Regions from separate parts of the Homo sapiens genome. Here region 1 is linked to region 2. The links come from fine-mapping of genetic effects on gene expression. A gene starts in region 2. The other region holds a variant in brackets. All regions are shown on one strand. Distances are between the middles of the regions.

The links. PIP is the estimated chance that this variant, and not a neighbour inherited with it, causes the effect. A credible set is the group of variants that fine-mapping cannot tell apart.
Region 1: its variant is the best candidate, but not a certain one, in a credible set for the expression of TMX1 in lung (TOPMed, PIP 0.53).

Annotation. Positions count from the first base shown.
Region 1 is chr14:51,256,086-51,272,110 of GRCh38, reverse strand. TMX1 (thioredoxin related transmembrane protein 1) reads right to left here. Exons shown (of 8, transcript NM_030755.5): 8 at 14,456-16,025. Among named protein-coding and RNA genes, the nearest start is that of TMX1, 24 kb to the right of the region's middle. The variant T/A (reference allele first, on the strand shown) is at 7,523.
Region 2 is chr14:51,230,795-51,246,819 of GRCh38, reverse strand. TMX1 (thioredoxin related transmembrane protein 1) reads right to left here and starts at 6,573. Exons shown (of 8, transcript NM_030755.5): 1 at 6,376-6,573; 2 at 2,849-2,964; 3 at 1,462-1,507. The coding sequence starts at 6,527. It overlaps LOC124900346 (small nucleolar RNA SNORA70), which reads right to left and starts at 2,730; the gene lies at 2,596-2,730. RefSeq lists an enhancer at 6,295-6,534 and a silencer at 6,395-6,737.

The DNA of each region.
Region 1 (16,025 bases), 25 kb before region 2:
TAATATATACACTTATAGCGGATATGCTTTTGCAGGTAGTCCATGATTTTAGAATGCTTTGGCTACAATACAGGATTTTGACATCAGCAGGAAATCCAATTAAGATTGGCAGATTAAAACAACTTTTAAGTGCTCTAATACTTCCTAAGGTGGTAGTTATTATCAAGGTTGAAATTCATCCCAAAAAGGGATAACACAAATGCTAAACAAGGTGTTCTGGCTGGTCACTATGGAAGACAGGCATCTTTTGCTAAGCTCCTAGCACCCATGAAACCCCAAAACCACAAAGGTCCTCTTTGTGCACCTCCAAATGGATTCATACAAGTACATCCTGCAGTGAGTTTTTAATATGTCCTGTCCACTGTTTGCTTATTCTCAGGATAGACTAAGCCTTTCCTTGCTAGGGAGCTATGGCTCTATGGTAGAAAAAATATTATCTGATGTCATATTGCCAACCTGTGGAATTCAAACATCTCTCTAGTGGCAGGGGTCCCAATTTTTCTAGGATTGTTATTAAAGAGCTTTGCAAGGCCCCTCCACTTAATCAGAAAGTTCCCTATCTATATTGCCCCAATATCCAAGAAAGGTAAAGAATAAATATAACTCTGAATCTCAATTTTGCAAAGTTCCCAGAGACTCTCAAAGTTCTACGGTCTAAGATATTCCCATAAGCTTTAATGAGTCCACTGGAGTCTATCAACTCTTGCTTTATGAGTAAATACAGGCCTGCCCAGGCATCTAGGAATATTACATCTGATTCTAGACTCCAGACACAACTGGCAAGCAGACAGGACCAAGTATTACAAGGAACTCATGCTAAACATCCAGTCTTATCAATAGGTATGAGCAGCCTTTCCCCCAAATCCTCCCAAACAAACTTCATACAACCTGAAACCCAAAGACTTGGTCTTCTGAAAGAAACAATTTACTCATGAATTAGCTAAATAAAGCATACACTCAAACTGAGAGTTGGGATTATATACATTTTCCTTTTGGAGGAGCCACCCAGCTTCCGTTGGTTCCATTTCCTTGTAATGAGATCAAATGATTTTCTGGGTAAAATACAAGGATAAATAGCCTATCAAAAACCAAAACAAAACAACAAAATGTTCCTGTCTCCACCAAAACTATGCTTGAGACCTTTGGGACCTTTTGTGGGAGCTAGCTTTTGTACACAAACTTTCACAGATAGAAAGCTTGAAAGAGAACTAGGGAACAGATTATGCATATTTGGAGACTATCTCACTTTACCCGATCTGACAAGTAAAACACACTACTTCTCTTTCACTTTAGAACAACCAAATTAATAGTCTTGACACCATAAATTTCACTGCCTGGAGCCAGACCACTCTTCATAAGTGGCCCTAGAGCATAGCAAAAGGATTTGACAATAACCACAGGAGTATTTTGACCAAAAACAGACGACTGAGTGGCCACCAGTGAGTGGATTTGTAACACAAAAACCTACTGGCTACTACCTGCAAATCGGACAGAGGCTTGTTACTTTGGTAAACTCCTAACTAACCTCAGGATAGTCCCTGTTATCATCCAAGATCTGTTTTGATTCATCAATTTACCCTCTTAGAAAAAGAGATAGCTTCATGAAAGGAGAAAAAGTGGGTCTTGGTTTGAGAATCGAAACCCTAATCACTCAAATTCTGGATTGCTTTCTGCTGTCTTCAATCCTCTTCACTTTATAAGAGGCCTAGAGGTAGAGAGTCTCCGGCATGCTATGGTTCAGAGAAAAGCAGGAAAGCTATAATAAACAATGCTACCACAACTACAGAACTCTTTGCCCAAGAGGTTCAGAAAATGGAACTCAAAAAGAGCCCATTAATTATAATATTGGTGTCTTGAGAGAAAACGTGCTGTTTTAGGGGGAAATGGTATGCTTATAGCCCTGCAGATGTCTCTGGCATCTTTAACAATACTAAAAAGATCTGGTAAGCTAACCAAAAAATCATAAAATTAATTAACTTTATGATTTGACTAATAATCCCATACCTGGTACTGCATCTCCTCATTATATAGGAGATAAAATCTGTTCTTCTAGCTTAATTTGGACACTCTTGAGTCACGGCTTAGAGGAAGACAACAAACTGATCATAATCCTTCTCTTGGTATATTTTATTTACAGGGGCTCAGATGGTGTGTCCTCAAGTTTTAAATGCTGCTGTCCAACTGTTGTCTTACCACATGATTAAACAAATGATCATCCAACAAAAAGAACAGAAAAACCTAACACTTGAATGTTGAAACAACCATCTGGGAAATGATACATGACTAAGAGACTATATATAGCAGAGAAGATCTAGACTGATCACATCCCCAGTAGTGAATCCATCAGCTCAGGCCAAAGAATGGCAATAAGGGGGTGAAAAGGAAAAACTGTTTCCTCTATATTCACACTTCTGACATCAAATGTATAGAAGCTTTCCACACCAAGCAATTCTCCAGTTCTCTGTGGATACCAACAGGGTGTCCTACAATTTAATTCTGACACTGACTGTACAGAGACAGTGCAGACCCCACAGGTTAAGGGCTCATTCCCACAAGACTGCCTCCCTTTCCCCACTTCAAATGCCAATCAAAAATCCAAGCCTCCCATATTTCTGACATCTATAAATCAGCAGTTCCTAAGAACCCCTCCTAAGGTTCAATAACTTACTAGAATGGTTCACTGAACTCAGGAAATGCTTATTATTTCTGGCTTATTATAAAGGATACAACTCAGGAATGGCCAGAGAAGAGAGGTATTGGGCAGCAAGGTATGTGGGAAGGGATATAAGTTTCCATGTGCTCTCTAAGCATACCACCCTCCCTGCACCTTCATGTGTTCACCAACCCAGAAACTCCTCGAGCCCCTTTATTAAGGGTTTTTAAGGAGGTTCCATTACATAGGTATGATTAATTCAATCACTGGTCGGGAGAAAGCTTCGAAGTTTCAGTCTTCTAATCACAAGGTTGATTCCCCTGGTAACCAGTCCCTATTCTGAAGCTATAATATTTAGGGGCTTTTAGCACCACTCTTTTCATGAAAATATTAAAAGACACTCACCATTCACTCCGGAGATCGCAAGTTTCTGAGAAGCTCTTGTGTCAAGAACAAGGAATAAGATTTAAAAAGATACTCCTATCACCCCACCACTAAGGAAATTGCAAGAGTTTTAGGAACTCTGTGTCAGGAACTGGGGGGCAAAGACCAAATATATATTTCATATTATGTTACAAGGGGATACACTAAAAGCTGAAACCATCTGCACCCACACAGTTTACCGTCAATATCAACAACTGTCTTCATTCACATAGCATTAATATTCTAGGAAATTTACCCAGGAAGGTAAATCTGCAAATAATTTTATTTGTTCATTTCAAGACATAGTCATAATCATTTATCTGAACACTCAACTACTGAACATATCATAATCATTTATCTGAACACTAAACTACTGAACTTACCCTCATCAAAGTATATACTCCTTTCTCAGAATACAGCAATGAATGTCTACTTCTCAAGATTCACTTTATTTTTATTTTATTTTACCTTTCAGATGGAGTTTCACTCTTGTTGCCCAGGCTGGAGTGCAGTGGTGCAATCTCGGCTCACTCCAACTTCTGCCTCTTGGGTTCAAGCGATTCTCCAGCCTTAGCCTCCCAAGTAGTTAGGACTACAGGCATGTGCCACCACATCTAGCTAATTTTTGTAATTTTAGTAGAGACGGATTTCACCATGTTGGCCAGGCTGGTCTCGAAAAGCGCCGGGATTACTTGGCCTTCCAAAGCACTGGGATTACAGGCGTGAGCTACCGTGCCTGGCCAAGATTCACTTTCAGATCCTATCCACAAATTTGTCTAAGCATAAGCCCCCAAATGAAAAGACCCACCATAAGCCAGAGCCCCAAGGAACCCAAAATATCCTGCCTTTGCTCTCCCTCTAAGACATTACCAATATGCTGTCAATGTAGTGATCAATAGGATTATTTTGGTGTACTTCAGGAAGACAGGATTTTACAATAGAGTAGGAAGTTTAAAGTACAAGGTGCCATACAGAAAAGTCCCATGCAAGATTAGGGTAGCATAGCATAGGAGAAGTTACTACACTAACATTCTCCCAAAGTGTACTTTAAGAAATACTGATCTCTTAGGATATTTAAAGTTGTTGCTTTCAAAAGGGATTCTATATTCAAACAAACTTGATTAATACCAGGTTGAACAAAGGTAAACTGGTCTTATTGGTAATAGGTACTGTAAACATCCAGCTGGAACATACTGTATTGACATACATATCAAACTCATTTGACCACGAGCATTGTCCTCATAAATATCTTGTGGGATTAGTTTTCTACAGAAAATATTTTGAGAAACATTGAACTCTACTAAAGTCAATGATCCTAGGTTCAAGTCTTCATTCCAACACTTACTTATGGTGTAACCTCACCCAAGTCTTTTAGCCTCTCAGTTTCCTTATCTGTAAAATAATAATAATATTCATAATAATAAAAAATATGCGCTCTGTCTACTAATAAAGGTTGTTGTTAGAGTCACATGAGATAAAGAACATGAAAGCCCTTTGTAAACTCTAAAGCAACGTACACATGAATAAAATGTTTTTTTTTGTTTTGTTTTAGAGACGGAGTCTCACTCTGCTGCCCAGGCCAGAGTACAGTTGTCTGGTCTTGGCTCACTGTAACCTCCACCTCCTGGCTTCAAGCGATTCTCCTGCCTCAACCTCCTGAGTAGCTGGGACCACAGGTGCACACCACCATGCCCGGCTCATTTTTGTATTTTTGGTACAGAAGAGGTTTCACCACGTGGGCCACGCTAGTCTCAAACTCCTGACCTCAAGCGATCCGCCTGCCTCACCCTCCCAAAGTGCTGGGATTACAGGTGTGTGTGGTGAACAAAAGGTTTTTACAATATCTCACATTAGAGATAAGGGAAATCCATGGGGATCATGAGACAGTATTATTGGTGAAATAAAATGGAAAATATTTTATTAAAAGTTGTTTTTTGTGGCCGGGCGCAGTGGCTCATACCTGTAATCCCAGCGCTTTAGGAGGCCGAGGCGGGTGGATCACGAGGTCAGGAGATCGAGACCATCCTGGCTAACACGGTGAAACCCCGTCTCTACTAAAAATACTAAAAATTAGCTGGGCGTCGTGGCCGGCGCCTGTAGTCCCAGCTACTCGGGAGCCTAAGGCAGGAGAATGGCGTGAACCCGGGAGGCGGAGCTTGCAGTGAGCCAAGATTGCACCACTGCACTCCAGCCTGAGTGACAGAGTGAGACTCCGTCTCAAAAAAAAGCTGTTTTTTTTTGCAAAGTTGGATAACTAGCACAATTGGGGCCTTCTTTGGTGGCTTAACTCAAGATCAGTGGTAAACAGCCGAATGAAAAAATATATTCAGCAAGAACTTATTAAGATGACAGTGCCAAGACACTAATATGATTCCATTTGAATTTGGATACTTCTCCTTGCTATGATAAATTTTATAATGATGCTTCTAAAACAAAACAAAACAAAAACCCTCAGTAACCCAACTGACCTTTTTCTTCCTTAGTGAGTGCCAAGCATCAGATTAAATCTGATCTCCCCATATGTACAGGAGGAAGTGTCACTGATGTAACTAAAATGCCAAGATAATCATTCACCTTGTGAGTCTATCTTTTCTTAACACAGACACAAAGAGTAATGAAATTACTACAGGCATGGGTGTCACAATAATACAAACTGTCACCTGATAGATCTCTTAAGTCAATAGCCCTTTTTGATCAAAAATGAGTTCTATTTAACAATGTGACTAGAGCATTTAACTTTACAGTTGTATCACATAGCATGGCTTCCAGTAACTCCACTCAAACAAAACTTTGTGAAGGATGAAGAAATCTACTGATTGGGAGGAGATTCTAATACTTGCTTTCTATCTATCTGCCTTTAAATGAGCTAATGAGGAAACTTCAGTTTATTCATCTCCCCCTAGACGTATTGTTCCCAGACTTCAAAATGTTATAAACCAGTAACATTCTCCTCCAAATGTTAGACACAAGAAACTGTCAACTTCTAACTTTACTAAGGTCATTTTTAAAAATTACCATCATTTTTCATTTTAGAAACACTAAGAAGTAGAAAGATATCATCTTAGAATAAAGGACTGCCCGAAGGATTAATAAAAATATACCACAATGCCCTATTTTTGTGGACTATGATTTCTTTGGAAGCTCATATCCAAGATGAGAATAAGTAACAGATCATTTTATGCAGTTTGCACGTACTCAGCTAAAAATCAGCCTGAAAACTGGGACCATTTAAGAATCTGAATTTATGTGTTAACATTGAATGTAACTAAAAATGTTTATATGCAATATATTACTAAAAGTTATCAAGCAGTTTGGCTTCTCCAGCAGTAAGGTGTCAAAGCATGCACTGACAAGGAGCTTGCAAATACATAAAAAAAAAAAAAGGAATCACATTCTTGACAGGTTTACAAAATAATAGTTTAAAAAATGGTTCCAGTTACAGTGCAAGTTACAGACTATTAAGCAGTAGTCTTATTCAACTGCAATCCACCTTTATAAACATTAGACTAAGAAACATTCGTGATAACATAAACATTTCTCATCCTTTCCTTCCTCCTCCTCAAAGGAAACAAAATAGCAAAATAATTCCTACCACCTTCAAACTTATATTGTTCCCATTCTCAGAAGACAACTAAAGTAACTGTCCAAAACGATTTGTAAGAATTTGCTCACTAAACATAAAATCCAAATATAAAAGTTCTATTAAACAAGTCAAGCAAGGCTCTTTTAGGTTCAAAGCCTGCTTTCACACTAAACAGCTATATTTGAACCCAATATATACTATTTTTAGCTTCCAGGATTTCATCTCTAATGCTTACAGAGCATAACATTAGTGTAATGAATTATGAGCTATAATAAAAAATAGATCCCTGAAAGGAAAACTATACTCATTTCACCTTTCATTACCCAGTGTTTGTTGTGTCTGATTTGGCCCAAGAATTACTTTTTACCACATACATGTACTCTTTGTTCCCCCTAACCTTGGAATGTCACAGTGAGAGAAGTAAACCATAGGCTTGAAATGAGCATTCTCAGATAATGAAATACATATGGAATGAACTGGGTTAAGTTAAATCAAGACACCATTGTTCACAAAGTCGAGAGGTAACAGCCATGCTCATAATTTCAACTGAAAAGTCTTACTCAAAATGGTTAGGTAGTAAGAAAAATTATCTCAAGTAAGATGTCCAGAGGTAAGGGGTATTACACCAGGACTTTCCCTTTGCTTTTCTGAGATCCTCTTGGCTCTGCCATCCTGTTTATTGGCTTCATCCTCAGGCTGTGAGATGACCTCAAAATTCTGTGCATCACATTCAGATAATGCCAAACTCCAGAAGAGAGAGAACTATCTCTTTGCTGAGTCTCATTTTTAAGAGGCCTTGCCAGAATACCGCAATATCTCAATGGCTCTATTTGGAGCACACATCCATTGACCATGTCAATTGC[T/A]GGATTGGATTAGCATGTGTGTTCATAATCTAAACTCAATCTAGCAGGCAAAGATGGAGTCAACTGCCCCTGAAGCATATGAACGCAGGGGAGACACAGATGGAGGACTTAAAATCTGGCTTTTGCAGTGAAGGATGGGATGATGCTAGTACAGTGACACAACACAACAGTATTGTCTATGAGAGTAAAGGGCAGGGCAGCCTTTTTCATTTCTGGCTCCCCATTCTCAGCAGACTCAGGGTGTGATTATTTCCTAGTGACCTGTTTCGTTTTACAAATGTGAACATTAATGCTCGGAAGTCTCCCACTACATCACTACAGTTTGTTTCAAACTAACAAGTTTCAGGCCTCAAGGAGCTGACAGTCAGGTTTTGGAGACAAGTATGAATCTAATAATTGTCTTCTTAAAGGTAGAGAAGAAACTTCAGTAATCATTTTACACATAAATTGAGGACAAGAGATGTATGGTCTTTGCTCAATGTCACTTAGCTAATTGGTATAATAAATGCAAGAGAAGAAACATTACAAGACAAATGTGACTTAACTGCCAGAGGATGATAAAACCTACACTTGTGGGCCGGAAAGGACTTTAAACGGATTTCAGCTGACTTATGAACCAACAGACAATGTGAGGAACATTCACTGAAGAGCTGATTTGTTAAAGTGGTCTCAAGAATATTAATTGAGGTGGATGGTAGGCAGATAGTTAAGAACATTTAAAATTTCCAACCAAGAAATATATATTTGATTCTGTGGAACATGGGAGATATCTAAAGTTTAGAGAACATTTCTTAAGAATGCCCTGCTACCTCAAAAAAAAAAAAAAAAAAAAATTAGCCAGGTGTGGTGGTCCACGCCTGTGGTCCCAGCTACACAGGAGGCTGAGGCAGGAGAATCGCTTGAACCCAAGAGGCAGAGGTTGCAGTGAGGTGAGATTGCGTCACTGCACTCCAGCCTGGACTACAGAGTAAGACTGTCTCAAAAAAATAAATAAATAAATAAAAGCCCAGGTAGCAATATGCCAATCATCCTAAGGACTTGAACTGATATACTCAAATCCACTAGGTAACCTTATTTCTGACCTGCTTTATTAAAAACACTGAAAATAGGAAGGCTTGAAAAAAATACATTGCTTAAGTTACTCTTAAAAATTAAGTATGTTTCCACTGAACTTAAAACGATGACTCTTAATTATATTTACATTTAAAAGAAGTTTCAGATAAGTCAAACCTCTATTTGGTCAATTTACTTCTGGTGTTTTCATTTCTCATGTTTTGGACACAACCAGTCTGAGTTATAACACCACTAGGAAAACAAGCTTAAAAGTAATGTCACACCCAAGTGGGTAGAAGATACAAGCGGATTTCATTACCAGGCAAAATACTGATATTATCACCATTTGTAATTAATGAATCAAAATAAACAATTACTTTAAAAGAGAGAGAGGGGAATGATGTCAGCAACAGGGCAGAATAGAAGGCTCCTGACTGTCCTTCATCCCACAGACACACTGGGTAAACACCTACACATGGATCAGCTCTCAAGAGAAAGCCAGAATCCAGCTGAAAGACACCTACACACCATATGACTGAGAAAATATCCACATCAAAACAGGTAGGAAAAGTGGAGATACACCAGCACACTAACCCTACCGTGAGCATGGCACCTTAAAAACAGAAAGGAAACTCCAAATCCTAGCTTCTTCCTGATGGGTGAGGGACTTATACCACATGTGCTCAACATTTACAGTCCCTGCCTTAAAGTCTGACACTTAAAATTACTTTGCTTGGGAAACAGGAGGGCATGGCATCAGATTTCCTTCAAGCACAAACAACAAAGGGGGCTTTTGAACCAAACAAACACTCCCAGTTGCTGCAGTCCCCAGGATCAGCTCAGCTCCCAACTTGTTCCTGAAAGGGTTTGAACACACACTTTTCCAGCAGCTCCCTGAGATTCTGGCTTCTAACAAACCTGTACCTGGTAACCTACATAGCAAAATAAAGAATAAACCTCACTTTGGGAGGCTGAGGCAGGAGGATGAAACCAGGAGTTCAAGACCAGCCTGGGCAACATAGCAAGATGCTGTTTCTACTTAAAATTTTAAAATTAGCTGGGTGTGGTGGTGTGTGCCTGTAATCCTAGCTACTTGGAAGGCTGAGGCAGAAGGATCACTTGAGCCCAGGAGTTTGAGGCTGCAGTAAGTTATGAAGCTGCGACTGCATTAAAGCCTGGGTGACAGAGCAGGACCCTGTCTCCAAAACATATATATATATATAAGGCTAGGTGTGGTGGCTCACACTTATAATCTCAGCACTTTGGGAGGCCAAGGCAGGATGACTGCTTGAGCCCAGGAGTTCAAGACCAGCCTAGGCAACATAGTTCAGACCTCATCTCTAAAAAAAAACCCCCAAAATTTAGCTGGGCATGGTGGCATGCACCTGTAGCCCCAGCTACTCGGGAGGCTGAGGTGGAGGATCACCTGAGCCCAAGGACGTTGAAGCTGAAGTGAACCATGATCATGCCACTACACTCCAGCCTGGGCAACAGTGAGGCCCTGTCTCAAAAAATATATAAATAAATAAATAAATCTCTTCAAGTCTAAACGGGAAGCATGGCACTCCCTATGTCACCTTCCTTAACTTGCTATAGCTCTCCAGGGAAAGAGGTTGGAGACTTCTGCCAGCAAGAATGGGAGCGATAGCATCCCCTGCACCTTCTTGACCAGCAAGGGGTACCTCTCTATGTATAAAAGGGAAAGCAGACACTCCCTGCCTTCCTCCCTGGCTTACTTCAGTGACAACTCCAGGAAAGTCTCCCCCTGCTAGGAGGTTGTGAAACTTCTGTTTGCTCTAACAGGAGAGTGAGCACTCCCAACATCATCTTCTCTGGCTTGTTCCAACAACAGATCCAACCTGCAAACTCTGTGGAAAGTTTCCACATGCATCTAGCACCCCAACTTGTAAAGCCTTCACTAAGCCTTTACTGGCACCTACATCACCTAGTTCTGGAAACTGACAGAGCTCTGTATTCCTGAGTCTTCTGGACCATAGAGAACAAACAGATGACTTTTAAACTTGTACGTTCAGCAGCTATCTCCCCAGGTTCAAAGTGCACAACCTGAACAAGACTTTAAGGATCTGCTTCTGACCCGTCCTTGATGTAAGATAGAAAGAGTCAGAGATAAACTCTGGCTCTCAGCTTCTCTGCAAGGGAAGAACTGAATCATATCTCACACTCCAACCTCTGCAGTTGCATTCCAAAGGACTGCCTTCTATCCTGCCTCTTACAAGGCAATAGTATGACTTGATGCTCTCTAATTTCTTGGGGTCCACTAAGAACAAAGATTCTTTGGACAAGCACAAAGAGTTTAGAGGCACTTAGAATCTCTGGTGGGGCTGACTGAGGGAGAACATCTACATGAGGCCAGTCTACCAAGACTTGGAGGGGGATTCTTTTATCTAATGAGCAAAAACTAACACAAAAATTACGGACAATGAAGAAAAAGGGAAATGTATTCCAAGTAAAAAAAAAAAAAAGATAAATCTCCAGAAGCCAACCCTAAGGAAATGGAGATATGTCATTTGCCTGACAAAAATTCAAAAGGACAGTCATAAAGATGCTCACCAAGGTAAGGAGAGCCATTCTTAAAGAGAGAAATTCAATAAAAAGATAGAAAATATTAACAAGTACCAAACAGAAATCATCAAGCTGAAAAATACAATAACTAAACTAAAAAACTCAGAATGGTTCAACAACAGATTAGATCAAGCAGCAGGATTAGCAAATTTGAAGACAGGTCATTGGAAATCATTCAGCCTGAAGAGAGGAAAAAAAAAGGATAAGAAGGAGTGAAGACAGCCTAAGGGACATACAGGACATCATCAAGCAGAATTTATGCATTATCATTGTGCCAGGAAAAGAGAGAAAGGGACAAAACATTCAAACAAATAATGGTAAAAAATTTCCGAAGTCTGAAGAAGGAAATAGAAAGCCAGGTCCAGGAAGTTCAATGATGTAAAAGGATGAATCCAGAGACCAACACCAAAACATATTATAATCAAACTGTTCAGAAGTTAAAGACAAAGAGAAGATATTGAAAGCTGCAAGGAAAAAGTGACTCGCTACATTCAAAGGGGCTGCCCCATAAGACTATCACTGGGTTTTTCAAAAGAAACCCTGCCAACCAGAAGGAAATAGGATGATATATTCAAAAAGCTGAAAGGAAAAAACCTTACCAACCAAGATACTATCTATACCCAGCAATCCTGTCTTCCAAAAACTTTACCTGAAAAACAAAAGCTAATGATTTATCACCGCTAGACCTGCCTTACAAGAAATCCCAAAAGGACTCTTCAAAAAATACCGCTAAGTAGCAACATGAAAATATATCAAGATAGAAAACTCACTGGTAAAAGTATACAGTCAAATTCAGAACACTCATACTCTGATGGTGGTATAAAAAACAATTATATATCTAGTACAAAGGCTAAAAGACAAAACTATTAAAAAAACCATAGCTAGAATAATTTCTTAAGGAACACAAACTATAAAATATATAAAACATGTCAAGAAAAACACTAGTAGGGAGTAAAAGTGTAATTTGTGCAAGTGATCAAAATTAAGGTGTTATCAGCTTAAAATAGCCCGTTATTAGTATGTTTTACGCAAGCCTTGTGGTAACCACAAAGCAAAGATCCTTAGTAGATATACAAAAAATAAAAAGTAAATATTAAAGCATACCACTATAAAAAGTCAAGGAACCACAAAGGAAGACAGCAATAGAGGAAGAGAGGAACAACTGATCCACAATATTGACCAGAAAACAATTAACAAAATGACAGTATTAAGTTCTTACCTATCAATAGTTACTTTAAATATAAATGGATTAAACACTCCAATCAAAAAGCAGAGCAGATGAATGGTTTTAAAAAAAAAAGAAAAAAGAAAAAAAGACCCAACTACATACTGCCTAAAAGAGACTGACTTCACTTCTAAGGACATATATAGACTGAAAGTGAAGGTATGAAAAAAGATATTCCATGAAAATGTAAAGCAAAAAGGCAAAACAGTATGGTAATGGCATAAAAACAGTCACATCAACCAACGGAATAGGATAGATAGCACAGAAATAAACCCAAGTATTTATAGTCAATTGATTTCCAAAGAGGATGCCAAGAACACACAATGGGAAAAAGAGTTTCTTCAACAAATGGTGTTTGGAATAAGTGCTTTTACCAACATGCAGAGGAATGAAATGGAATTCTTATCTCACACCATAATCAACTCAAAATGGATGAAAGACTTAAACCTAAGACCTGTAACTATAAAGTTACTGGAAGCTCTACAACATTCATCTGGGCAATGATTTTTTGAACAGAACTCCAGAAGCACAGGCAACAAAAGCAAAACCAGACAAATGGGGTTGCATCAAACTGAAAAGCTCCTGCACAGGAAAAGGCATAATCCATATATTGGGAGAAAATATTTGCAAACCATATAACTGATAAAGAGCCAATATCTAAAACATATAAGGAACTAAATTCTATTTATTTAGAAATAATTTCTTATTAATGTCTAATAATTTCTAATGATTTATTAATAAATCAATTCCAGTTATTAAGAAAAATAACTTTTTTAAATGGGCAAAAGATAAACAGATATTTCTCAAAACACACAAATAGCTAACAGATATAAGAAATGCTCAACATCTCTAATTATCAAGGAAACACATATTAAAACCCAATCAGAGATCACCTGTTAACAATGGTTATGATCAAAAAGACAAATAAGTATTAGTGAGAATTTTGAGAAAAGGGAACCCTTGTACACTCTTGGTGGGAATGTAAATTAGTACAGCCATTTTGGAAAATAGTATGAAGTTTCCTCAAAAAACTAAAAAAAACAGAATTACCCTGTATCCCGGCAATCCCAATTCTGGATATGTATCCAAGGAACTGAAATCAGTATGTTGAAGAGATATTTGCACTCCCATGTTCATTTCAGCATTATTCACAGTAGCCAAGATAGGGAAGTAACCTAAGTTTCTGTCAATGAATGAATGGGTAAAGAAAATGTAGTATACATGCTGGAATACTATACAGCCTTAAAAAAGGAAGGAAATTCTGTCACTTGCAGTAACATAGACAGAATTGAAGGACATTATGCTAAGTGAAATAAGCCAGGAAGAGAAAGAAATACTGTATGATCTCACTTATATGTAGAACCTAAAAAAGTTAATCTCATAGAAACAATACAAAGGTGGTTACAAGAGGCTGGGAAGTAAGGGAGGAATGGAGAAAGAGAAGATGTTGATCAAACAGTACTGAGTTCCAGTTAGACAACAGGAATACATTTTAGTGATCTATTGCATGGCATGGTGACCACAGTTAATGCATATTTCAAAATAGCTAACTTATATTTTTAACATTTTCTCCACAAAAAAAATGATAAACTGGTGAAGTGATGGATATATTAGCTTGGTCAAATCTTTCTACATGTACACAGATAAAAACATCACATTGTATCCTATAAATATACACAATTATTTCCTGTCAGTTAAAAATAAATGACAAAGGCCAGGCACAGTGCCTCACGCCTGTAATCCCAGCACTTTGGGAGGCCGAGGTGGGCGGATCATGAGGTCAGGAGATCGAGACCATCCTGGCTAACATGGTGAAACCCCAACTCCAGTAAAAATACAAAAAATTAGCCGAGCATGGTGGTGGGCACCTGCGCCTGTAGTCCCAGCTACTCGGGAGGCTGAGGCAGGAGAATGGCGTGAACCCTGGAGGCGGAGGTTGCAGTGAGCCGAGATCATGCCACTGCACTCCAGCCGGGGCAACAGAGTGAGACTCCATCTCAAAAATATAAATAAATAAATAAGAAAAAAGGGGATATGTTACACCTGTTCAAATATATAATCTGACTTTGCTATTTACATATTACCAAAATTCCAACTTAAATTTATTGTTACTCTAGTTTTAATGGTTTCACAAATACAAAAGTTGCTAGATAAGCAGTACCAACATATCTAAATCTCCAATGATGTTCAATTAAAATTTTATTTATAGACTCATACACTCAGCAAAACCACTCATTTAATAAGTCCAACTGAAATAAATTCTTATTAATAAAATACCTATATTGAAAGTAATATATTGTAAGAACTCTACCTTAAATTGACCATGGGGATGAACTACAATGTCATAAAATATGAGCCAAAATGTTCACTCAATAATTTTAATTACATCACAATTAAGCCCAGAACTATGCCTTTTTTTGTGTAAGGCTGAATAAGGACGAAACTGATGAGAGAAAATTGCTTTCTAAAGCATCATTTACTGCAATAACTTACTTTATGCAATAACCAACATCACGAGACTGCAAATACTGAATAATTATGGTTATTTATGAATAGCATTTATTCACTCCTACATTCTGACAGGAGTGAAATTTTAAGACCAAAATAATAGCCGGGCATGGTGGCACATGCCTGTAATCCCAGCTACTTGGGAGGCTGAGGCAGAAGAACTGCTTGAACCCAGGAGGTGGAGGTTGCAGTGAGCCAAGATCATGCCATTGCACTCCAGCCTGGGCAACAAGAGTGAAACTCTGTCTCAAAAAAAAAAAAAAGACCAAAATAAGAGATTGCTGAATTTCATGTACCCACACTGAAGAAAAAAAACAAAAACAAAAACAAACAAAAAAAGATTTGGAACAAGAATTAGATTCAAATTTTACCTATTTGTACCACACCTCTGGGCTGACTCACCTGAAAGATGTGCAATGCTTACCTGTCTTGCAGTTGTCATTAGGACTAAATTAATAAATACAAGAAAACAACAAAGCTCCAGTAGGTACTTGGTAAATGGCAGCTGTTAGATGTAGCCAGAATTCTTCATTAAAACTTTTTTCAGTCTTTCTGATAATCATTAAGTATTTACACAACGTAAGGTAGAATACTGTATTTTCCTCTAGAGATCAGATTTTACAATACTTCAGTAGTACAGCTGAATTGATTATGGTGGGTAGGTGGCCCAGAATTCTCCAGGATATTACTTTTACTATACCTTATTCTTTCCTAAACCATTTGTAAATAATCCCAAAGTTTCTATAAGCCTGTTACTAACTGAAAATTAATTACTCAGATGTCTACAGTGACAATCTTTAAGAACCGTGAGATTATATGTTTCCTGAAATTTCAAGACCCTATCTGTTCAGCCAACTTTACATTTTCTATAGTACAGGGGTCTTTTTGTGGTTTTTGTTTTGCTTTGATTTTTTACTCTATAGAATCTTTCTGGTCACATATTTTCTAATAAAAAAATTGGCCATGTCACATATACTAGAACACTAAAAAAAAAAAATGCTTGATTAATGAGCATTACTGTCCTTAAACATCTCAATAGAAAAAGAAGGCAGTCTTTTGATTACACATATCAAGTACATATATAGGAACACACAACTACTCATCTGAACATCGTTAAATACAAAGTAATAAAGC
Region 2 (16,025 bases):
TCTCAGGAAAGTACTTTTAAGCCTTATGTGTAATACACATATTAAAAGAATTATATAAAAATTATTAGAATAGTGCTTGGCACATAGTAATTATTAGCTGTTAAGCTATAACTTAAAATTTTAAGGCATTTTTCTAGTACTTTTGGCTATAATAGCATCACCTCAGACACCCTGCTTTAAATCACTGGAGGCATCTGGTATGGTGCTTCCCTTCCTCTCATTTCAGTGACTATTTAGTGAGCTTTGCAGCCTTCCTTAGATCCACCTCCTCCTTCCCATTCCCAATGTAGAAAGTTCTGTCAGAGTCACAAATGTTCTCTTGGCTCCAACATCTTTAAGTGCAAAAACTCATCAGCTCCCTACTAGGGACCTGTTAAGTAGGGTTAAGGGACCCTTTATCCACTCAGAGGTAAAAACCACGAGGAAGCCCCCCACCCCAAAACACAAAGTTTTTGTGAAGTGTCATTTGAGCTATTATTTGAAGCATAGGTAAGATTTCGACAGGCAGGAAACAGGAGAAAGGATATGGTAAACAATTTTGACTAAAAGAAAAAGGGCAGGAAATTCCAAATAAGGTCACAGGGCACTAAGAAGTGAAAAGCAAAGGGAGAGACTGAAGGGGCACGTGGGGAAAAGGACTGAATGAGAAGGGCAGGACAGAAGCACTTATGGAGACAGCGAACAGAAATTTATATAGATGTAAAGGGAGTAGGGGTGAATTTTAAAACCATAAAAAAAAGAAAAAAGGGCAAAGAAAAGCAAGCTATAAATACAAAGAATTGTCAACTTATTTTCAGTACCTCCTGGTATTTAACCTACCAGCTACATGATGTTGGGGTACACAGACTTGAGATTTCATACCCTCAATTTAGAAGATAAAGTCAAACTAATAGACCTGACACTGAAGACTACATAATCTTGCTCATTCTGTTTTATTACCCAACTGTCACCTATTACTCTACCCAAGGCTGTACAACAGCACTTTCTTAGCTACTTTTTGGACATAACATGTTCCTGTTAATGACTGTTTATGAGATTGTCCTCACAATAAAATGCTTACGCTCCACTCTTAAAATTCTACTTCCAAGGTTTCATTTAAACCCCATATTCTCTGGGAACCAATCCAGGTAACTGTGATTTCTCCTTTATCCAATTACCTACAGGACTCACCACTACTTTGGATGCATAATGACTTAACACGCTGAACAGGATCACACCATTTCACAAGAACATCACTTTCCAAAACAACTGTAAATCTTTGAGAACAGAGACTGTTTCACACATCACTCAACTACCTAAAGGCACCTAGGATAACACTAAGCAAAACAAGCCCTCTAAAATACCTGCTGAATATAATGAGATTACCTCAGCTCTTCCAGCATGATCCAAGCCAGAGGCCTACTACTTCTGATTACACTATAATGCATCCTTCTCCATAATTTAGAATCTTCAAATACTTACTGATAAATAGTAGGAAGAGCAGTTATGATAAACCGTCCACTCAGTCCTACAAATAAAGAACACACAGCAGGTTTTACATAGGCCAATCACTGACTACTTAAAACGTGACTTTGAATTATTTAAATACATACTAATAGGAAAGAATATGAAATTATACCTAATAGTTGAGCTTCGTAATACATAATTTAAAAATGAATTATGTACTTAAAGCAACTTTAAAAAACACAATACTGCACATTATCTCAGTTAAAAAGTATGTAGAACTAGAGTACTGAATACATTTTTAAATAAAAACACTTCAACATTTATATCACTGTCAAAATTAAGACTACTAGTAATAAGAGCACCTTGTGCTCATGGGAGAGCACAAGGTAATAGGGTCTTAGATCTAAAATCCAATGGAATTGTACTTGACATTCAACAAACAAAGGCAGTTTATGGTGCTGCTAAAAATGGAAAATACTATGAATCTTTCATGAGACAGGCAAAAATAATAGCAGCTAACATTTATTGTTAGCCATGTGTCAAGCACTGATATTACAGAGAATTGACCTGTGCCTCAGTTTTCTTATCTGTGAAATGGGGACATTACATATTTCACGGGGTTGTATAAGGATTAAATAATAAACACAAGATATTTGGAAGAGTGCTATAATAGGCAAGCGCTCGATAAATATTACCTATTATTACCATTTGGGATGGGACAGCCAAGAATCCAAGGGTAGTGTGACTACCGAGAACGGTAAGATGAGATTGGTCTGTGGAAGGAACCTCCTTAAGGGCAGGACCTGCCACTTGTCCAGGGACCAAGTCAGGAGTGCACTTGACCTCACAACCACGAGGGCTTTATATTTAGAAGCCCACATCCTCAAATCATAGGTACTAAATTTAAAACTCAATTTCAGAGATTCAGGTCTTCTTTTGTCAGGGAACGTGACCTTGACTCCAGAAAAACACTCAACCACATGCTCCTTATTCTGAAGCCTGGTATGGATGCAAATGTGGCTTGGCCAATGTTCACCTGAACCACAGTGTCCTAGGACTTCTCAAAGGCATCTTACATACTAGTCTGGGGCCTGGGATGCAAAGAACAACAAATCAGAGGCAGTTATGTGGGCAAGAATAAAAAGAGGGTAATGTCTTCAAGAACCCTTAAAGCAACACATTCAAGAAATGAGGTGTATACACAACCAGGGAATCTCCATTTTGCAACCATTGCACACTGAGCCCCCAGCAGGGAGGTGGACAAGTCAGGTTAACTAGCTGCAGACTGTTAGGTTTTCAAAACCTAAAGAAAGGTAGAATTAAGACTATGCAATGTAGAAAAAAGGATAAATATATCAACCCAAACAGCAAAGAAACAAAACTAACCAAAGACTTACAGTACCTGGCTGCTCTGTGACATCTACTTTCGCAATATTAACCTCAAGATCTTCTCCCCATTCAGCAAAACTTTCCCATTCCGGTTGAAGATTTTGACAAGCAGGGCACCACGGGGCATAACTAAGAAATACAGATTTTTTTTTAAAAAAAGTTAAGCACTTTAGTATGACCATTTATCTTGGGATAAAAAATTTAAATGTATAATTTATGAAGAATATTTCATATGAAAACACTGAAGATGATAAGGTGGTTAATTTTATGCAGATGAAAAACTTTTAAGGGTAGATCTAACAATCCGGAAATCAAGAATGATGAACTGATGATGCTAATCAAATAAAATTCTGAGAATAAGACACAGGATTTTTTCACATGCAAAACAGCTCTTTAGAAAACTTTTGCATTTCTCTATTAACGGTGTGGCCACCAGAAAGCTCAAGACCAAAGTTAGAGCTTACCAATTTTAATAATTTATAATGCAGAGTCACAAATGCAAGGTGTTGGAAAAACAGAAGTGTCCTGGGCTGTGGTGAATAAGAAAGCACATATTCCATCTTAAAGTGGCAACCATTATTAAGTAGGATTGCCACTAAGGATGCTGGCACACTAAGGCTGGCTATTCATATTTAAAAGAAGATGGAGAGCTGCATTTTTATATGAGAATGTTACCTCAAAAAATAACCCACACACAAATACTAAGCAGGCCAAACAAAACTCTTGGCCAGTTAGGTCATCCTGTTTCCAAGACCTTGGATTTACAAATGCAAGCATATTAGCATTTAAATTACTCCTCTGGTATTATCTCCTGAGGATCTTATTTTTCCACTTTATTGTATTTTATCTTATAATACACCACAGGGTTGTTCTTTTTTTTTTTTTTTTTTTAACAGAACCAGGAAGAATAAAGCCTAAAGCAGTTAAACACAAAACTATACTTTCTGTACTTCACATTTTCTTCACTTGTTTTATGAAAACCAAACTCCTAAAATAGACATTGTAGAACAAGACAAACTGGTAGTATAAAAGCCAAGCTCCTAACAATAAATCGTATTACAATGAAAATATCTCCATGACAAAACTTCTGAGCAGAAATGGATTTACTGTAGATAATTCACTTGTAATTAGGAGCAGACTATTACTAAAACTACTAGAGTCCTTCTTTTTCAGGTTCGTTTTGTTGCTCAGTTGCTTTTTTATTTTTTGAAACAGGGTCTCGCTTTGTTACCCAGGCTGGAGGGCAGTGGCGCCATCTGGGCTCACTGCAACCTCAACCTCCCGGGCTCAAGACATCCTCCCACCTCAGCCCAAGTAGCTGGGACTACAGATGCCTGCCCACACGCCCAGCTAATTTTTCGTATTTTTTTGTAGAGACTGGTTTTTGCCATGTTGCCCAGGCTGTCAGTTGCTTTCTAAAAACTTACTTTAGAATCTCTACTTAAGGAAAAAGAAAAACTACTACTCTATAGCATAATTTCAGATAGATGCTCCAATGTGGATTTACCTCATACTCAATGTTTTGTTAGTCTTGTTCTCCTTAATACTACTTCTGATTGCTGTATTTATATAGTTGGACCATAATGAGTTAAAAAATATCCTTGAGTAATACTTGACTGTATTTTGCATATACACACACGATCACTATTGCTTAATATATTGCTTATAACACTATTTTACAGGCACGATCTAAAACAAGTTACTCATGATGATGACTGAAAAAGTGTCACAGTTCCTCTCCCCTGAAGCTTTCAATGGTGCCTGAATGAAAATTCATTTCAGAATTGCAGACTACATGCATACTATGAAAATTTCCCTTTATCTTACCCTCCATATAAATGTTCTACTTTTTTTTTGAGATTGAGTCTCACTCTGTCGCCCAGGCTGGAGTGCAGTGGTGCGACCTCGGCTCACTGCAACCTCTGACTCCCAGATTCAAGCGATTCTTCTGCCTCAGCCTCCCGAGTAGCTGGGACTACAGGCGCGTGCCACCACGCCCAGGTAATTTTTTGTATTTTTAGTACAAACGGCGTTTCACCGTGTTAGCCAGGATGGTCTCGATCTCCTCACCTCGTGATCCACCGGCCTCGGCCTCCCAAAGTGCTGGGATTACAGGCGTGAGCCACCGCGCCGGCCAGTTTTGTTTTTTTAAAAAATAACACAGGACTTACTGATTTAGCCTTCTGGGTTCTCCCTTGGGGATGTCACTTTCACTGGCCTCCTTAACTTGACAACCCTTGCTGTATTCGTGACACAAGAAAACACTCACCTGAACCCTGTTGTCTTTTCATTTTTATTTATTTACTTATTTATTTTGCTAGTTGCCCAGGATCTCTTGAACCCCTGGGCTCAAGTCATCCTCATACCTCAATCTCCTGGGTAGCGTACGCCACTTCCAGCTGAACCTTTTTAAAGAAGAAGGTGTTCTAACAACAATTATTGTATGCCTACTCTGAAGACCCAAAGAAAGCCAGCACAGCAATATCTGCATAGGTTAACTAAAGTATTTAGGTATCTTGTTACTCATTTGTAAAACGTGAAAAACACCTGTCATAGAGAATTTGTAGGGAATTAAATATGGTATTCGTGTAAAGGTGCTTAGTGGTGTCCAGTACACTGTTAATAATTATGCTTTTACTATTATCAGTAAATACTGCTAATATGTATAATACCACCATCAACAACGACTTAGCATCTAAAGCAAAGACAGATACTTTATTTCCCACCGCGGCAGAACAGATATTATTAAATTGAAATCACCACACAAAATACATGATTTCGTTCGAGCAATAAATGATGACCTGGCGCTCTTGAGAGTGTATACATTAATACATTATCTTTTAATGTAATACCATTTACAAAGACCTAGGAGTCACAACCCAAGGTATTCTCTACACTACAAAGACACCCAAAGGAAAAATGAGATGAGGAGTGAAAAAAAGAGAAAGCAAAAGAGGAGGCAAAAAGAGAAAACGAAAACTTAAAAATAACCCAACTTGAATTGACTCAGTATTTACAATAAAAAAGAAACGTACCCAATCCATTAAAAAAAGCTTAAAAGCGCCAAATTCCAACACCATAAAGAGACTATCTTTTAAGGACAGACAAAACGAGAGGAGAAATTTTGCTCAATATTCTCTTATGTAAAATGTGGTGAAAATAAGTGTAGAAGTCTGTGAAGAATCACTTTAACTACTTAGACACGAGTCGGACACCTCCCTCCCCGCGCCCCAGTCGCATCCTCAAAGTCATGAAAAATGTCAGAATTCGCATTGGCACTAACCCTTTGGGCGCACCACAACCCAAGAAACGAAACGAGGGTGCACCCCAGAAGAAACTTAACATTCACGGGTAAGAGACGAGGGGGTGGGACCAAGCTGGCGGCAGATCCCAAGAGTTTGGGGAGCTGCAGAAGTCGGGGACGCTCGCTCCGCAACTCGGAGGCGCAGTCCTGGGGAGCCTGCGACCCGCACGAGGAACGTGCGGGGTGAAGTCGTGTGTCCAGGCACGGACGTAGGACCCTGGCCGCCCCGCACTCACAATTCTATCATCCAGTCTCCTTCCAGCAGTTCTCTCCAGTTCTCGTCCGTGATGACGCGAACGTTGCTCCGCCGCCCGTGCGTCCAGGGAGCACCCCAAAGCAACAGCACCAGGACTGCCAGGGGAACTGCAAGACTCCCGGAGGGCGCCATTTCGCCGCTTGCCCACCTCACAGGGAGCGCGGTCGCAGCTCCCACTTCCGCCCTCGCGGGCTGCTCAGCGCAAGCGCACTACGGTGCTGCGAGGAGCGCCTGTCTAGAGGACTCTCAATGCGCATGACAGGGGTCTGATCCCAGTGAGTGGTGAAGTCGGGAAAGAGGGAAGAACGACTCTCCGCAATGCGCATGACAGAAAAGCGGCTGCTTCTACCGCCTAGGGTGTCCCAATATTGTGGGGGAAGGAACAGAGCAAAAGGAGGCGTGGTGTAAAAAGTGGGGCGGTGCTTTGAGGAAGAACGGTTTAAAAGACCCTCCCAGGATTTTGGCGCCAAATGGTTAGCGTTTACAAGCAAATTGGTAAGTTTATAATGTGCTAAAGCAGTTTTCCAATTAAATGTCCTTCAGAGTTCTCATTTGTTTTCTTTGAAACATGTAGTAAAGCTAATGGATTTTATAGGAGTCGGAATATTGGTTTACTTCTGAGAGATTATAGACAGGGAAGGTGCAGAGGAACATTATGGTTATGTTGGATGTGTTGGAGGTGTTCAACATCTAGATATGAACAGTAGTTACATGGGCGTACGTATATGATTTTTTTTAAAGAAGGATCAAGCTGTACATTTTAAGACAGTGCACTTTATGCACTTTCAGGTGTATGTTATCTCTCAAAAAAAATTCAGTAGGTACAGAGATCCTAGGTCAGTACTTCAAAATGGAACCAGACACATAGGCTTGTAAGATATTTGAGTTTTTTCTCTCAAACATTCGTAAATACAAATGCAAACCAAAATGTGCACTGCCCCATCAGTCAAATGAAAATAGTTGCAGGTGCGGTGGCTCACGCCTGTAATCCTAGCAAAACAGGGAGGCCAAGGCAGGCGGATCACTTGAGGTCAGGAGTTTGTGACCAGCCTGACCAACATAGTGAAACCCCGTCTCTACTAAAAATACAAAAATTAGCCAGGCGTGGTGGCAGGCGCCTGTAGTCCCAGCTACTCAGGAGGCTGAGGCAGGAGAATCGCTTGAACCCGGGAGGCGGAGGTTGCAGTGAACCGAGATCATTCCACTGCACTCCAATCTGGGCTATAGAGAGAGACTAAGTCTCAAGGAAATAGTTGCCACTATCTTACCTCACCTTTTCAACTTAATTAACCCCAATTAGTCCCCTTCCCCACCCCTCCACTGAATAGCCCTCTCAAGGACACCAGCGACCAGCAAGATAAATCCCAATTGTTTCTTCTCAATGCATCTAGCATGACTCCTAGCCCCATTCTACCACACCCTTGAAACACTTTACTATCTTGCTGTCTGGGCAGCTCGCTTTTTTTTCTGTCCTACAGTAGCTGATTCTTCTCAAACTTCTTGGCTGGTCCTCCTTTACTTCCGGACATCGGCATCTCCAGGATGCTTTACTGCCCCCCGCCCCCCATCTCCCGCCACCTTTCTCTTCATATCATCAGGCTCTCATCTTTCTGGGAACTACAGGCATATGTATTCAACTGTATATCATTCAGACTCTGATCTTTCTGGGAACTACAGGCATATGTATTCAACTGTATATCATTCAGACTCTGATCCTTCTGGGAACTACAGGCATATGTATTCAACTCCTTGCTAAACATCTCTTGGGTATGTAATAGCTGGTGAAAGGAAAAGAAATCTTGGGGCCCCAAAATCATTAAGCTAAAGGGAAAAGTCAAGCTGGGAACTGCTTAGGGCAAACCTGCCTCTCATCCTTCTTCTCACTGAGATAAATGCATATCTGATTGCCTCCTTTGGAAGGCTAATCAGAAACTTAGAAGAATGCCACCATTTGTCTCTTACCCACCTATGACCTGGAAGCCCCTTCCTGGCTTCGAGTTTGTCCCGCCTTTGCTTTGAGTTGTCCCACCTTTCCAGGCCAATACAATGTTCATCTTACATATGTTGATTGATGTCTCATGTCTCCCTAAAATATATAATATAAAATCAAGCTGTGCTCCACCCACCTTAGGCACATGTCCTCAGCACCTCCTCAGGCTATGTCATGGGCGCGCATTCTTAATTTTGGCAAAATAAACTTCCTAAATTGACTGAGACCTGTCTCAGATTTTGGGGGTTCAGAAGCTCAAACATCAAACGGCCAAAAAAGATAATTCTTGATTCTTCCTCTCCTGGTCTTCCATCCACTAAAGAGCCCCGAGGTTCACCAGGTTTCTCTAGCCAAACATGTACATGTTAATTCTTTATTGTTCTCTCTCTTCACCTTCTCCTCTTGTAACCTATGAGCAAATCTTGTAAACGTTACCTTCAAAACGTATCCTGAATCTGACCACCAATTTCCATCTCAACAGCCAACACCCTAGTCCAGAGTTTTCTTGCCTTGAGTACAATGAGAACTTCCTAAATTTGTGAGAAAATAAATTTCTATTGTTTAAGCCACCCAGTCTATGATATTTTATTATGGCAGCCCAAGCTAAGACACTAGACCTCCATTACAATGTTGAATAGAAATGGCAAGAGTGGCCAAACATACTTATCTTGTTCCTGTTCTTAGGAGAAAAGCGTTGTCTTTTACCACTAAGTATGATGTTAATGTGAATTCTAAATAGTTGCCTTTTATACAGGTGAGGAAGTTTCCTTCTATTCCTAGAAGGTCGTCTGTTTTTATCTTGAAGAAGTGTTGAATTTTGACAAATCCTTTTTCTGCATTTATTGAAATGACCATGTGGTTTTTGTCCTTTACTCTATTGATATGGTGTTTTTTTTGTTTTTTTTTTTTTTTTTTTTTTGAGACGGAGTCTTGCTCTGTCATTAGGCTAGAGTGCAGTGGTGTGATCTCAGCGCACTGCAACCTCCGCCTCCTGGATTCAAGCAATTCTCTTGCCTCAACTCCCGAGTAGCTGGGATTACAGGCACGTGCCACCACGCCCAGGTAATTTTTATATTTTTAGTAGAGACGGGGTTTCACCATGTTGGCCAGGATGGTCTCTTTCTCTTGACCTCATGATCTGCCTGCCTCAGCCTCCCAAAGATACAGTGTATTACATTGATTGATTTTGGGACATGAAATCAACCTTGCATTCTTGGTATAAATCCCACTTAGCCATGGTGTATAATTCTTTTTATATATTGCCACATTCAGTTTGCTAGTATTTTGTTGCATATTTTTATGTCTATATTCCTTAGAGATATTGGTCTGTAGTTTTCTTGTAATGTCTTTGGTTTTGCTATCAGGATATAACTGGCCTCGTAAAATAAGCTGGGAAGTGTTCCCTCCTTTTCTATTTTTTGGAAGTGTTTGTGAAGAATTTGTATTAACTCTTCTTTAACTGTCTGATAGAGTCTAGCAGTGAAGTCACCTAGGCCTGGGCTTTCCTTTGTAGGTAGCTTTTAAATTACTAATTCAATCTCTTGTTATAAGTCTACTATGATTTTCTATTTCTTCTTGAGTTGGTTGTGGTAGTTTGCATCTTTCTAGGAATACGTCCATTTCATGTAAGTTGTCTAATTTGTTGGCCTAACGTTGTTCATAGTATTATAATCCTTTTTATATCTGTAACATTGATATTAATGTCCTCTCTTTATTGCTGGTTTTAGTAATTTGAGTCTTCTTTCTTTTATTTATTGGTCAGTGTTATGGTTTGGATATGGTTTGAGTTTGTCTCCATCAAAACTCATGTTGAAATTTGATTCCCCATGTGATGGTATTGGGAGGTGGGGCCTATTGGGAGGGATTTGAATAAAGGGGGTGGATCTTGTGAATGGCTTGGTGCTGTTCTTTTTTAAAAAAAATATATAGGGTATCTCTCTGTCACTCAGGCTGGGGAGAGATGGTGCAATCATGACTCACTACAACCTCAAACTCCTGGTCTCAAGTGCTCCTCCAGTTCAGCCTCCCAAGTAAAGGTGATAGCCTCAATGCTGGCCCTGGTGTTGTTCTCATAGTGAGTGAGTTCTCACTCTGATGAGACTGGATTAGTTCTCTTGGGAATGAATTAGTTCCCTTGAGAATGGGTTGTTATAAAGCCAGGATACCCCTTAGGTTTTCTCTCTTTGCACTTGTCCGCTTCCCTTTTGACCTTCTGTGCCATGTTATGACCCAGCACAGAAGACCTCACCAGAAGCCAGGGCCATGCCCTTGAGCTTCCCAGCCATTTGCACCACGAGCTAATAATCATGACCTATTTTGTTTATAAATTACCCAGCCTTCTGTTATAGCAACACAAAACAAAGTCAGTATAGCTAAAGGTTTCTCAATTTTGTTGACCTTTCCAAAGCACCAACTTTTAGTTTTGTTGGTTTTCTCTACCATTTTTCTATTCTCTTCTTGATTATTTCCTTCTTCTTTATGCTTTGGGTTTATGCCCCCTTTTACCCTGATTGTTTTAAGATGAAAGTTATGATTATTGATTTGAGATCTTTATTTTTTTAACGTATGTGTTTAAGCTCTAAATTTCCCAACCCTGCTTTAGCTGTATCCCATAACTTTTGTTTTGTTGTGTCATCATTTCATTCATCTCAAAGCATATACTAATTTTCTCTTTTGATACCCTTTTTTGTCAATTGGCTATTTAGGAGTGTGTTTTTCATTTTCACGTTTGTGAATTCCCAAATTTATTTTTGTTATTAATTTCTAATTTCATTCTATTGTGGTCAGAGAACATACCTTGTATGATTTCAATCTTTTTAAAATTTATTGAGATTTGTTTTATGGCCTGGTATATGGCCTATCCCAGAGAATATTCCATCACTTGAGAAGAATTTGCATTCTTCCATCACTGGGTGTTCTATAGTTAGATGTCTGTTAGGTCTGATTGGTGTATAGTGTTGTTCAAGTCTTCTAGTTTCTTGTTGATATTCTGCCTACTTGTTCTGTCCATTGTTGAAAGTGGAGTATTGAAGTTCTCCAAATATTGTTGAATTGTCTATTTTGCTCTTCGTTCTGAAAGTTTGTGTTTCATGTATTTTGGGGCTCTGACATATATCTTTATAATTGTTATATATTCCTGAGGATTGACCCTTCTCATCATAAAATTTCCTTCTTTACACCTAGAATTTTTTATTGGTTTTATATTCATTTTGCCTGATATTAGCATAACCACTTCAGCTTTCTTATTGCTGCTATTTGTATGATATATCTTTTCCATCCTTTTACTTTCAACCATTTGTATTTTTTAATCTGAAAAGTGTGTCTCCTGTAGACAGCATATAACTAGACCTTGAGGGTTTTTGTTTTTGTTTTTATTTCTTTCTACCTAGTCTAACAATGATTGCCCTTTGATTGATTACATATTTAATCCATTTGCTTTTTTTTTTTTCTTTTTTGGTGGGGGACAGGGTCTCATTCTGTTGTCCGGGATGGAGTGCCTGGACACTCCACTTACTGGTAATGTTATTGTTTTGTTTGTTTGTTTGTTTGTTTGGCTTTTTTGAGAAAGAGTCTTGCTCTGTCACCCAGGCTAGAGTGCAGTGGTGCAATCTCAGCTCACTGCAACCTCTGCCTCACGGGTTCAAGCAATTCTCCTGTCTCAGCCTCCCAAGTAGCAGGGACTACAGGCATGCGCCACTATGCAGAGCTAATTTTTGTATTTTTAGAGAGATGGGGTTTCACCATGTTGGCCAGGCTGGTCTTGAACTCCTGACCTCAAGTGATCTGCCTGCCTCAGCCTCCTAAAGTGCTGGGATTACAGGCATTAGCTACCACAACTGGCATGTTATTGTTAATATGGTTGGATTTCTGTCATTTTACTTTATGTTTTCTATATGTTTTATGACTACTTCATTCCTCTATTCCTCCTTTACTACGTCTTTTACAATAAACACTTTCTAGTATAACATATAATCCTATAAGAATTTCTTATAGTGTATATTTTGAAAGTTTTTTTTAGCATTTTCTTTAAAGTTTACTATATATATTAATTTATCAGAATCTACTTCAGATTTATACTAACTTAATTCTAGTGGGATACAGAAACATTACTCCTATGTAACTGTTTACTCTTTCTACTTTTTGTGTTATTGTTATATATTGTATCTATGTTATAAATTCAGTAATATATTGTTATAATTATTAATTTATGTACTTTTATGTTTAATAAAGAAGCTGAGGAAAGAAACAAGAACAAGTATATATTTAGTGTTTATTATATTAATATTCATATTATCATTTTTGGTTATCTTCATTTGTTCCTGTGGATTTAAATTATCATCTGGTATAATTTCCTTCCTCCAATACAACTTTGCTCCCACCCACCATCTTTATGCTGTTGTTGTTAATTATATTACATTTCTGTATGTTATAGGCCTAACAATGCAATTGTAAAAAATTGTTTTATACAATTGTTTTTTAAATCAGCTAAGAGACAAAAGGAAAATAAATATACATTTATACTGCCTTTTATAATTACATAATCACCTTTGCCCATTCTCTTTGTTTTTCTTGTGGCTTTAAATTACCATCTAGGCACACTTGCTTTTAACTTGAGAAGCTTCCTTTAGTATTTCTTATAAGGAAGATCTGTTTGCAACCACTTTTCTCAGTTTATGTTTATCTGGGAATGTCTTCATTTAACCTTCATTTTTGAAAGATGGTTTTGTTCTATATAAGATATTTGGTGTATAGTTTTTTCTTCCAGTGCTTTGAATATGTCATCCACTGTCTTCTGATCTCCATTATTTCTGATGAGAGGTATCTAATAATCTTATCAAGGTTCACTTGTACGTGACAAGTTGTTTTTCTGTGGCTGCATTCAAGTTTTTTTTTTGTCTTTGTTAGCATTTTTACTATGATGTATCTGGGTGTGGAGCTCTTTGCATTTGTCCTATTGGCATTTGTTGAACTTCTTGTACATTTAGATTAATGTTTTCTGGAAAATATGAAGGTTTCAGTCATTATTTCTTCAAATCCATGTATTTTTTGCTCCTTTCTCCCTCCTTTCCTTCTGGTAATCTCGTTAAGCATATGTTGGTAAACTAAATGGTGTCCCACATTTATTGCTCATTTTTCTTTATTCTTTTTTCTTCCGTTCTTCTGATTGCATAATCTCTGTGAATCTATCTCAAGTTTACAGATTCTTTCTTCTGCCTCCAAATTACTGGTGAGCGCCTGTAGTGATTTTTTTTATTACAGTTATTGTACTTTTTAACTCTAGACATTCCATTTGGTGCTTCTTAAAAATAATTTCTATTTATTGATATTCTCTTTTCGATGCAACATTGTCATCATACCTTCCTTTAAGTTCTTTAAGCACGATTTATTTAAGTTTGTTGAATATGTTTATAATGAATGCTTTGATATCTTTGTTAAATCTGACATTTTGGCTCTGTCACAGGTAGTTTCTGTTGCCTACTTTTTTCTCTGATCTATGGGTCATACTTTGCTATTTCGCTGCATGACAATTTTTTCATTGAAAACTGGACATTTTAGGTAATACATTATAGCAATTCTGAGTACTGATTCCCTCTATATGGTTTGGACTTGTCTTTTGTTTTTATTTGATTGTGGTTTGTTTAGTGACTTGGCTAGGCTATTTTGGTGAAGTCTATTTCTCCAGTAGCGGAAGGCCTCTGCTCCCATTTCTCAGAGAGTGCAGCCTTGGACATGTGCACCGTCACCAGGGGATATCAGTGGTTCTAGCAAGGCTCTCTTTGACTGTCTCTTTCCTTGATCTCTCTGTTAAACTTTCTGTCTCGTTTGGTGTTACCTCTAGCTGTTGTGCTACACTAAGTGTAGGATGATTTCTCTGTTTAAGAAGATACCCCCTGGGGCATAAATTGCTCCACAGTCTAATCCAATAAAATTCAGGCATTGGTAGTTTTTGAGGCCAGTCTTGGAGGTTTCCTCTAACCTCAAGAGGGCTCTTCTTAGTTGTCTCCTTCCCTGGTTCTCTCTGGTAAACTAGCTAGCTTATGGTTTAGCTTGTTGCTTTTTATTACAGGAAACTATTGTTTTTTTTAGAGCAACCCGAGGCTTGACCATCACCCACACTCTGTTTCAAATAAAGGTAAGTCCTCTGGGGAGAGCTTCAGGGCTCTCTGTTTTTATGGGCTGCGTCTACTCATGGGCAAAATTGCTTAGTTATTATTCTGGGCACTGGGTAGAACAGGAGGCTCTGATCTTCTTGACTTGCTTCTGAAGTGGAACCTCTGCCATATGAGCAAGCTGGGTTAAGGGTGATTGGAGTTCCCAGTGTTCTCACTCTGCTGCACCTGGCATAGAACTTTTGTCCCCTGTATGGGGCCACACTTACCAGGAATTTAGCCTTTGCAACTCAGAGTTGGAATGGATGAAAAATGCTGGTGGCCTTTTCCTCCTGGTGAGATATTGCCTCTCTTGATTGAGAGTTGAGGAGACAGGGAGCCCTATGTTCTTGGTCACACTCACCCAGAGTAGAGTTTTGACCAAGATGAGCTCAGGGGGTGAGGAAGATGGGTAGGAATCGAGTGTATGGCTCAGACGCCATAGACTGTTACTGTTCTTACTCAGTTTTAGTGGATTTTCTTGAAAAAAAAGAATGCTTCTTCATTTGCTGTATGCCCTTAGGACAATTTCCACAGACTTTAGATGGTTGTTTTTGTTTTTATAGTTTTCAACAGTATTATGGGATGAAGTTGTGTGCCCCCTCCAAATTCATGTGTTGAAGTCCTAACCTCTAGTAACTCATAGTGTAACTGTATTTTGAGATAGGGTCTGTAAAGAGTCAAGTAAGTTAAAATGAGGTCATTAGGGTGAGCCCTAATCCAGAATGACTGGTATCCTTGTAAGAAGAGGAAATTAGAAAACAGACTTGTACAGTACAGAGGGAAGACCATGTGAAGACACAAGGAGAAGATTGCCATCTACAAGCCAAAAAGAAACACCACAGAAGAAACCAACCCTGTCAAAATCTTGATTTCAAACTTCTAGCCTTCAGAACTATGAGAAAGCAAATTTCTGTTGTTTAAGCCACCCAGTTTTTGGTACTTTGTTATGGCAGCCCCAGCAAACTCATACAACCAATTATGCTTGTTTTGCTGGGATGGGTCTACACTGCCATCTGGAAGCCCAACCCAAGCCATCATCTTGTCTCATGTGGATTATTACAACATGCAAGGTTCTTAACTAGTCTCAATGCTTTTATACTTGCATCCTCCCAGCTCACCAAGTATATTTTCCTGTCTAAAACCAAAGTGGTATTCCTGAAACACAAGGCTGACCATGTCATCCCCTACTTAAAACTGTTTAATGGCTAGGTAACATGCTTTCTATTATCCTTAGCATAAAGTTCAACTTTCTTAATATAGTCTCCAAAATCATACTGTATCTGGCCTTTTCTAATGACCAAGCCTCAGTTTTTGACCTCTTTTGTACTGTCTGATAAAGTCATACTAGGTTTCTTACAGTACCTTGACCAAGCTATATTTTCTCTTCTAGGTTTTTGTGGAAGGTATACTGCTCCCCTCATTCCCCAACTGCCCTGCTTCATTGCCACATAACTATTCAATCTTCAGATTTTACCTATGTATCCCTTT